Linked DNA regions of Homo sapiens. The protein of the gene in region 3 purifies or fractionates together with the protein of the main gene of each other region. This does not show direct contact. Each region holds a gene or a part of one and is shown on either strand. Other genes may lie near its edges. The genes, in order: PRMT2, CTSC and ESPN.

The links.
Region 1: the proteins of ESPN (region 3) and PRMT2 purify together in Homo sapiens (affinity purification with mass spectrometry; one large-scale study listed by BioGRID and IntAct). This does not show direct contact.
Region 2: the proteins of ESPN (region 3) and CTSC purify together in Homo sapiens (affinity purification with mass spectrometry; one large-scale study listed by BioGRID and IntAct). This does not show direct contact.

Annotation. Positions count from the first base shown.
Region 1 is NC_000021.9:46,662,609-46,665,737, reverse strand, and holds the end of PRMT2 (protein arginine N-methyltransferase 2), read right to left. Parts: intron 2,356-3,129; coding exon 2,184-2,355; intron 1,444-2,183; coding exon 1,411-1,443; coding exon of another isoform or gene 1,364-1,410; 3' UTR 614-1,363; downstream 1-613. UniProt on the Homo sapiens protein: Arginine methyltransferase that methylates the guanidino nitrogens of arginyl residues in proteins such as STAT3, FBL, histone H4. Acts as a coactivator (with NCOA2) of the androgen receptor (AR)-mediated transactivation.
Region 2 is NC_000011.10:88,331,136-88,334,788, reverse strand, and holds part of CTSC (dipeptidyl peptidase 1 isoform a preproprotein), read left to right. Parts: intron 1-3,653. UniProt on the Homo sapiens protein: Thiol protease. Has dipeptidylpeptidase activity. Active against a broad range of dipeptide substrates composed of both polar and hydrophobic amino acids. Proline cannot occupy the P1 position and arginine cannot occupy the P2 position of the substrate.
Region 3 is NC_000001.11:6,431,271-6,434,923, forward strand, and holds part of ESPN (espin), read left to right. Parts: intron 1-3,653. UniProt on the Homo sapiens protein: Multifunctional actin-bundling protein. Plays a major role in regulating the organization, dimension, dynamics and signaling capacities of the actin filament-rich microvilli in the mechanosensory and chemosensory cells.

The DNA.
Region 1 (3,129 bases), on a different chromosome or scaffold from region 3:
CTATGCCACAATGAAAAAGTCAACCACAACCACACTGTCTAAAATTCATAGATGAGTCTCACAAACAATGTTTAATTAAAGAAGGCAGACACAAAAGAACACGTGTACAACTCCATTCAGGCAAGAGTAATCGACAGTTACAAGTCAGGACATCACCCTTGAGAGGGTGGGCACTGAGTGGAAGGGGAATCGGGGAATCTGTAGTGTGTCCTGGCCTGGATGCTGGTTACATGTGCGTCCACTTTATAAAATGCCATCATCTATGTACCCATGACTAGCACTGTTTTCAATATATATTTGATATTTCAGTTTTGTTTTTTGGGGTTTTTGAGACAGGGTCTTGCTCTGTCACCCACGCTGGAGTGCAGCAGTGCAATCCTAGATCACTGCAGCCTCAACCTCCTGGGCTCAAGTGATCCCCCCGCCTCAGCCTCCCGAGTAGCTGGGACTACAGGCACACGCCACCATGCCCAGCTAATTTTTCTATTTTTTTTGTAGAGATAGTATCTCGCTGTGTTGCCCAGGGTGGTCTTGAACTCCTGAGCTCAAGGAATCATCCCACCTCAGCCTCTCAAAGTGTTGGGATTACAGAGGTAAGCCACTGCACCCAGCCTATATTTCAATAAAATTTAATAAAAATCAAAACAATACAAAAAAAAATTATGGACATGTATCTACTGATGTGGAAGTTTTTTCACAATATTGAGAAAAACTTATAAAGCAATGCATATAGTATGATCCTGTAATTACAAAAAATAACATATATGCATAAAACAGGATACACAATGACATTCACTCATTTAAAAATATTTATTGAGCATGTGCGATGGACCAACACATAATTTATTTGGAAGACGTCTACACAACTGTACTATCCCATGCAGAGTCCCATCGCATACATCACCACCTTAGCTCGCACGCTGAGCCAGGGCAGTGTTCCCTACACGCCACTGGCACAGCCCTGTGCAATCCTACGTCCCACACGAGTGGATGAGCGACGGCAGTAAGGGCACCACTAACATAGGAGGTGGGGACAGTCACTGTCACAGGGTACACGGGCTGATATGCGTGCGTCCTAGGAGTGTAGACCTAGACCTAGCTTAGGAACATGGAGCTCCGACCCAGCCACGGGTCGGCACTGTGGGCACCACGGGTGAACACCTGGAAACACAGCCTACTTCTAGAGGGCAGACACTGGGCAGCGGGGGTGGCCACGGCAGCTCCTGCCGAGCCCAAGCGTGTTTGTCTGTGAAGGACCCTGACGTCACCTGCCAGGCTAGGGAGGGGTCAATGTGGAGTGAATGTTCACCGACTTTCGCAGGAGTGTGCAGAAGCCAGGTGCAACTTGGTTTGCTTGTGTTCATCACCCCTCAAGATATGCACACTGCTTTCCAAATAAAGCATCAACTGTCATCTCCAGATGGGGAAGACTTTTTCTCCAACCTGAAAAAGATAAATGACAACAGGTCAATCAGATGATAAATCATTTGATTAACATACTACATTTCCTAATGGTTTAATATTGGACAAGAGAACAGTATTCAGGTGCAGAATTTTTTTAAATGACAAACTTTTAACAAAAACTTATCACAAAGCAAAGCACAAAACAAATATAAAAAATGAAGGAAAACCATTTATTTTTATTTTCTTTGCCACATTAATCCTGAGCCCAAAGAAGAACATTCCATTTTCAGCAGCCTCTGAGACAGGAAGCCCAAGTGAGCTGGGCGAGCTACACATGAATTCACACACGGATCCGAAGGCTGCCAGTCAGAACACGCATCACAGACGACACGCCTAGACTAACTGCTGCCTGGGAAGCCACAGAGGCCTGTGTAAAGGGAGCGCCAAGGCACAGCTCAGGCTTCTGTCCATCTGGGGGACCCTCTGGACATGGCACAAGGGGCCTCAGGCTGATGTGGGTCTCTGCTCTCCCTCACTTACCGTGTCACCTGAGGGAATGACTTCCCTGACTTCCCTTCCAGAGCCCTCCACTTCCCGTGCTGTCAGATGGGAAATGAAGCCAATGACAACAGGCGCTTTCTGTGTAAGGATTAAATCACTCCTGCACAAAAGGCGTGGACCCCAGTGTGGGCCAGCATCTGCCATCACTACCACCACCCAGGCCTGTCTCCCTGAGGACCGGCACCCACAGGACAGAATCTTACAACTACGTATCTTACTTTTTGAGATGTGGGGTCTTGTCTGGAAGTGACAGCCCAGCTCAGAGCCACAGACATGTGCCTTCTCCACACTGGGTTTCTCTGCAACACAACTGAACCCGTGACCACGTCTCCTGTATGGACAGGGACTGGGTCGTCCATCATGAACAGCGTCTGCTTCCAGTGTGTGGTGCTGCAAGACAGGGGTGCGTGTGACCTGGAGGCTGAGCTAGGGCAGTCTCCACATGGCCCTCGGGGCGCTGACTCAGGCTCGCACTGGCTCTCGCCCCCAACAGCACCCACACAGCCGGCAGTCCACCCTGAGGGCCTGGGGACACAAAGCTTGGCTTTTCAGGCTAACTCAGGGAACATATACACCCCCAGCCCTGTGATCTAAAGGGACTCTATGGGATACACTGGGATCAAAGTTACGCTAGTGAGACAGATCCTGCCAATGCCAAACACAAGCTTGCTCCTGAGACCACTCAGATTCCAGGAGGTGTGGACGGCTCACCCTGGGTGGCCCAGAGGATGCGGGAGCTCAGGGGACACACAGCTGCACTAAAGGTCCCGTGTGGTGTCGACTCCCCGGCCCGCCAGGAGGACGGCTGTGCAACCCCTTCCTGCACCCTTGCCTAAGCTGCAGAGGCTGGTGATCTAGCTCCTGCTGTTAAACTGTGGTGTACACAGACAGAATCAGGTCCAAGGAGTCGCTTCTGTGAAGGTTACAAGGTGAGGACAACTGTCACATTTGGGGGGAAATAGTAAAACGCTATGATTCTGCACTGGGTTGCGTTGGAAACATCTCTAAGTTCCTCAGGCTCTGTCTTCCCTCAAACTCCCACTGTCCACGGTGGGGCCAGCAGTGAAGTGGGGGGCTCCTCAGGTCTCCAGTTTTTCCCTGACTCTGGTCACACCCCTCACCCCAGCCTGTGCCCCAGGTCACTGCCCCCTCCACGCCCCCAGA
Region 2 (3,653 bases), on a different chromosome or scaffold from region 3:
AATTTTGCCACTTTATTTAAAATTATGATTTTAGTAGGTTTACAAAATACCAGTGCTACATTTGAATATGTATAAATTATGTTTAAAATTTACATTTTGGTAAGTATGACTAAATTCTTAATTTATTTTCCTTATTACTACCACTTTATTTCTAAATGTTGCCATAGTCATTTGGCTTTGTTCTAAATCTGTAGGAAAGATAGAGAGATTACACATTTTGTTTTCTTGCAGTTACTATGCTGTCCTTCCTATCACTACCTGTTGGCTGAGGTAGTGATAGGCCTAAATGATTCATTATCTTAAATGTACTAAATATGTTGAGTAATTTTTTCTTCTAAACTAACAGAAAGAGAGAACCTAGGAGTTACTCCCTTAGGCTGGTTAAAGTGAAAGGTAGCCAAGTCAACCCAGCTTGTTTCCTTCTCTCATTAGGAAAGAACTATTGTTCATTCTCATAACACACTTTTTCCAATTGCAAACATACTCAGGGTTAAAATAGTTTAGCACAAATTGCAGCCCATTTCATTTGTTCTTCACAAGCTGGAACTTTTCTTGTAAGCTAAATATTAAATGGTTCAAGTAAATTGGATACATAAGCCTGAAACTAGGCGTTTCTCATTATACATAGAGTATAAATTAAGACAGACTTTTTCATGGTGAAAGGTTTACAGCCTTTAAAACATCTGGGAAGAAGTGGGAAAGTAGGGAATAACTCTGTTAAATATGATAAAAGACAAAGCACCAACAAAGGCCTAGTTCTAAACTTGTTATAATTTCTCATGGGAGTTGTGGTTTGTCACAAGGTTATGGCGGTCCAAGCAAGTTTACAATATTTTTTAGAATAATAACTCCCAGAAATATTTTTAAAATAAGGACCTTTCTTTAATATGGAAAAAAAAAAGATGAAATAGAGAGGAAGAGGTTGCCTTTCCTCAACTGGATTTGCTGGTGTGATATGCAGCTGGTGGAAACCAGTTTGTCCATGCTAGCTGTTGATGGCCACCAGTCCACTGAATTAGTGGAAACCCATGCTTAACCAGTTGTTAACTATTTTTAGTATCATTTCCAGATGCTACGCATTTTTTTTGTAAAAAACATACTTACAATAGTATCTATATAAATTTTTAAAATTGTAATGTATATGTGGTATATTTAACCTGAAAATAATCTTTGGTGTATACGTTGATGAGCCTAGGCCTTTGCAGACCTCTTACAGTTACTCTGTCACAGCCCTTCAAAGGTTCTTTGACTTCAGATTAAGAATCAATTGCATGTGGAATGCATGTGCAAAGGAAGAGATATTCAAGGCAATTGTTACCATGTACCATAAACCTTGTACATAATTTTTTGTCATTTTCTTTTCCTCTGTCTCTATCCCTTCTTCTTTGACACACAATAGACACCTAGTCAATTTATTACAAAAAAAATGAATGAATGAAGTGGAATTCAGTTGGGAAATAGGTTAAATAAATTATTTAGGAGATGAGGAATAGGTAAAAAGAGACAAGTACATAGTTTATTCTTTTGACTTAGAAAACTTTTGATTCTTAAATTCTGCAGAATTGGAGAAACTGGTGGGGAAACTTCTAAAATCATTATTTAATTACCAGAGATGTAATAGATATAGACAAAAGCAGTTTTCTTCTTTTATTATTTTTTCATCAGTTAGTTCTTAGCTTAAATAGTAGTCCAAAGCTGGTAGGGACAGAGGGAATTAGCTGGTGGCTGAATGAGGAATTGTATCACTTTTTGTGAATCACGGTGTAAGCACATTTGGTGTTTTGCCATTGCCTAAGAACATTAGTCACATTAGGTCAATAGAAAATCACTTTTTAAAGCCAAATAAAGTTATATGTGTTCCCAACCATGAGTTGGAAAGAATTAATATATATGCTGTTGGAGGGTAGAACCCTGCCTAATCATATGGTTCTGGATGGCATTGATCGAATCCTTATTCTTTCATTAGGAATAACAATAGAAAAAATACTCCTGCCCTACTGATTTCAGGATATGTCTATTTTAAAGTGCCCATTTGACAAAACCATTATCAGGGCCATGTTTTCTTTTTCTGCAGAAAAATCAACCACTCTGGTCAGTAGTTAGGTCTTATGACAAGCACCATAATTTCCTTAGGCAGAGTAGAATATAATAGGATACTTCTTTTTGAAACTTAATATAATCAGGTAGTTCCAGATAAACATAGCTTGCAAAGTGATAAAATACCATGTTATTTTAGTAAATCCAATTGCAAGAGTGATGGGAAACAGAGTTTAAAAACTTAAGAAAGATATTAAGATGGAGTTGACTTTGAATAATAAAGTCATCCACTGTTGATGGGTGACATTTATTAATACAGAAAGTTTACAGATTTTACCATAAGCATCAGGGTATTTCCTGCAGCTGGGGAAACCGTGCTTGAAAGGATGCGTAACTCAAGGAAAACACAAGCCCATGTAATAAGTATTGCATGTGAGAATTGTTCCTATAGAATTAGAAAGCATCTTTTACATTAAAATTTATTTTTGTAAAAAGAGAAAACATCAAAACTTGAGTAGTATTTGCTATTCAAAGAGTCTTACATAAACGAAAACATACTCAACCTACTGCCATTACAGAAATATTTGACAAATTCTTGCCATGCTTACCTGCCATCGTTGTTGTTATCCTACAAATCAATTGGATTTTCACGCCTCTCCACTGACTGGAACCCTACAACTTGCTTCCTTTTATCCTCTTTATATATGCTTCAGATATGCTTGAAGTAGATTGTTTCTTATTGTTCTTGCTGCTCGAGTTTGTTGAGTAGTTGGTACATGCAGAGTATTTGTATGTTATGACATATATAGGTTTTGTCCATGGTTCCTGGCTCATAACTCACTCCCAAGACCCTTGTTACAGAAACCAGAATCTCTCTCTCTGATCTTCTCCTACCCTCCTTTCATCTGCCCACTGCAGAACTCTAATCTGATTATGGTTTCTAAGACCCTCATACCAGAGAGTATTCTGCCCCATACCATAGCAGAAGGAACACTGCACAGAGACACCAAGAAGAATCTGAACAGACAGGCCTTGTTAGGTTTAGATCATGTCCTTATAACCTAATTATATTTTAACATGGTTATCCATGCTTTAATCATGTGTATTCAATGAACGCTCCATAAAAGCCCAAGAAGAACAGATTTGAGGGAATTCTGAAGCGCTAAACATGTAGGGTCTGACAGGAAGGTGAAGAAGAACTCATCATGCTGGAAGGGTGGTCCACCCTAACTCCGCAGGGACAGAAGCTCCTGTGTCTGGGACCCTTCCAGAACTTGCTCTATGTATCTCTTCAAGTGCCTGTGTATTTATATCCTTTCAAATATCCTTTGTAATAAATCATAAACATGTTTCCCTGAGTTTTTATGCCACTCTGTCAAATTAATTGAACCCAAAGAGGGGGTTATGGGAACCCCAATTTGAAGCCAGTCCATCAGAAGTTCTGGAGGCCTGGACTTGAGACTGGTGTCTAAAGTGGGCAGGCAGTCTTGGGGACTAAGCCCTCAACCTACGGGATCTGAAACTGTCTCCTGGTAGGTAGCATTGGAGTTGTACTGGAGGGCACTGAGCTGGTGTCTGCTGCAGAATTGATTGCTTGCTTGCTGGTGGGGAGAACT
Region 3 (3,653 bases):
AAAGCCTCCCCTACCCCCGACCAGACTAGACTGGAATGGGATTGGAAAGTACCTGGGGCTGGGTACGGTGGCTCATGCCTGTAATCCCAGCACTTTGGGAGGCCGAGGCAGGTGGATCACCTGAGGTCAAGAGTTCAAAACCAGCCTGACCAACATGGTGAAACCCCGTCTCTACCAAAAATACAAAAATTAGCTGGGCATGTGGCCGGGCTATGCCTGTACAGGTGGCCCATGCCTGTAATCCCAGCTACTTGGGAGGCTGAGGCAGGAGAATCACTTGAACCAGGGAGGCGGAGGTTGCAGTGAGCCCAGATCATGCTATTGCATTCCAGCCTGAGCAACAGAGCAAGATTCTGTCAAAAAAAAAAAAAAAAAAAAAAAAAGGAACGAACGAAAGAAAGGAAGAAAGGAAGGAAAGAAAAGAAAGAAAAGAAAAAGAACCTGGTGCTGAGTATCTTCTAGGGGTCTGGCACCACCCAGTGTCATCTGAGCCACACAACCACCCCGAGCAGTAGCTATGTAATCAGCCCATTTTACAGATGGACTCATTCAACTAATGTTTATTGAGCATCTTCTATGTGCCAGGCAATATTCTAAATGCCAGTGATATGCTGGTGAACCAGACAAGCTTCCCTGCCTCGTGGAGCTGACAGGTACAGAAATGGTGTTTTAGAGAGGCTGATTCACCAGCTGTGGTCACCACTGGCTTGCTGTGTGGCCTTGAGCAGGCTGTACCTCCTCTCTGGGTCTCTCTCCCACTCCTGGTCCAGGTCCTAATCACTCAGGGCCTTTCAAGTCCACCGGAGACTTCCCCTTTTCCCTTCCTTTGTGCAAGGCTTCATGGAGCCTGGCTGCTCCCACGGCCCAGGGGTTCAGGCAGCCCCCACCTGGGACAGAAAGGGAGTTTCTTGGGAAGCACCAGCAGCTCTCAGCTTAGAGAGCCCCAGGGCCCAGGGCTCAACTCTCCCCCTTAGAAGGCTGGAGGCTGTGCCTGGGGTGGTCCCTTTCCCCACTAAGCCCCTGATTCTGCCACAGGCCGTGGGGGCTCATTCCTTTTTGATCACCAGCTCCAGGTCTACCCTTGGTGTCTGTCAGTTCACCTGGCAGCAGGGCGTGGGGGCAGGGCCTGTGTCCGCACTGAGGAGGTGGCTGCTGTCCTTGACCCCCTGACCTACGTGGAGGCTCTGGGAAAGGAAGGGCCTGGTGGAGTCCGGAGCAGCCCCTCACAGCAGGAGACCATCTCATGTCTCCACCAGCAGCTCCTGGTCCCAGCTGTCGTCTAACCGGGGCTAGTGCCCCTGCCCTACCCTTCTAAGGGGGAGAGCTGAGCCTTGGACCCTGGGGCTCTGTAAGCAGCACACTGCTGGGGCATCCTAGGGCTTCTGAGAAACCCCCTTTCTGCCTCACGTGGGGGCTACCTGAACCCCTTGGGCTCAGCTGGGCCATGGGAGCAGCCAGGCTCTGTGAGGCTGTGCACTACAGAACGGAAAAGGGGAAGTCCCCAGTAAGCCTGAAAGGCCCTGGCCTTCACCCGTCCATGTCCACCCGCAGCCTTTGAAAACACAAGTCCTGCTGGGTGCGGTGGCTCACACCTGTAATCCCAGCACTTTGGGAGGCTGAGGCGGGTGGAACACGAGGTCAGGAGTTCAAGACCAGCCTGGCCAACATGAAGAAACCCCGTCTCTACTAAAAAATACAGAAATTAGCTGGGTGTGGTGGCACGTGCCTGTAGTCCCAGCTACTCGGGAGGCTGAGGCAGGAGAATTGCTGGAACCAGGGAAGCGGAGGTTGCAGTGAGCCAAGATCGCACCACTGCACTCCAGCCTGGGCAACAGAGTGAGACTCCATCTCAAAAAAAAAGAAAAAAGAAAAGAAAAGACAGTGCAAGTCCTGGTCTGGTGCAGTGGCTCATGCCTGTAATCCCAGCACTTTGGGAAGCTGAGGCGGGCGGATCACGAGGTCAGGAATTTGAGGCCAGCCCGGCCGATACGGTGAAACCCCATCTCTACTAAAAAATACAAAAATTAGCCGGGCATGGTGGTGGGTGTCTGTAATCCCAGCTACTTAGGAGGCTGAGGCAGGAGAATTGCTTGAACCTGGAAGGCGGAGGTTGCAGTGAACTAAGATCGTGCTGCTGCACTCCAGCCTGGGCGACAGAGCAAGACTCCATCTCAGGAGGAAAAAAAGTTAGCCGGGTGTGGTGGTTCCTGCCTGTAGTCCCAGCTACTTGGGAGGCTGAGGCATGAGAATCACTTGAACGCAGGAGGCAGCGGTTGCAGTGAGCTAAGATTGTGCCACTGCATTCCAGCCTGGGCAACAGAGCAAGAATCCATTTCAAAAAAAAAAAAAAGAACAAGTCCCATCACAGGCTTCTGACCACTGACAGGGAAGGCTGCTCACTTCCTTACAATGGCCCAGAGGCCATCCCTCCTCCGGGCTGTGGTCCCATCCAACAGGCCAGCGCCCCTGCCTTCACAGAGGCTGATCCCTCTGCAGGGATCAGAGATACCCGCCTGCACCCTGCCTTCCTCCAAGTCTTTGCCCAGACCTCACCTCAGCAAGGCCAACCCTGAGCCTTGCTGAAATTGTCAACCGCACCCATGATGCCCACTCACTCTCCCACTGGCCTTGTTCCCTGCTGCCCTTTTTCTTTGAGACTTGAGTCTCGCTCTATCGCCCAGGCTGGAGTGCAGTGGCACGGCTCACTGCAACCTCCACCTCCCAGGTTCAGGTGATTCTCCTGCCTTAGCCTACCGAGTAGCTGGGATTATAGGTGCATATGGCACCACACCCGGCTAATTTTTGTATTATTAGTAGAAATGGGGTTTCACCATGTTGGCCAGGCTGGTCTCCAACTCCTGAACTCAGGTGATCCGCCCGCCTCGGCCTCCCAAAGTGCTGGGATTACAGGCATGAGCCACTGCACCTGGCCTCCCAGCTGCCCTATGGTTGCCTGGCTTTGCGTTCTGTGTGCATCCTGCGTGACAACCAAAAGCTAACCCCTAGGAGAAACCCCTGAGACACATTCCATCTCTTCACTCCCTGCATGCCCGAATTTCCAGCCAGGCCCTTCATCACACAGACAGATGTGTGTTTTCATCCCATCTGTCCCTGACTAATGAGGCCAGGGGCTTTGTCTTCCCGGCTCTGTATGCCCAGAGCCTGACTCCAGTAAACGTCTGCTGAATGAGTGGGGTATGGAATCCCAGGGACTTGTCCACTCTGCCTATAGCTCATTGCATGTGACCCTAGACAAAACTCCCCTCTGAGCATTCCCAAGCCTGTCTGGCAAGTGGACCTAACCTGCCCTACCAGCCTGAGGCCATGAGTGAAGAGAGATCCCCTACTCCTGGCCTGGATGTCCCTTCTCATATTTATTCATTCAACAAAAAGCAACTGGGTGCACCCAACTGCCCGGCCCGTCATCACGTCAGCCATACATTCTTCTATCCATGTGTGTATGGGTCTGAGGAATAGGAGAACAAGATAATTCAGGAGTGACAAGTGCTGTGTAGTGAAATGAGCAGTTTGGTAGGAAGCGATGGGGATGGTTCTTGAAATTGAGGGGTCAGGGAAGCCAGGTGTCTTTGAGGAGAGGAGAGCTGAGACCCTAATGAAAAGAGGGTGGGCCTCGCAGCCCTGCCTTGATGGAA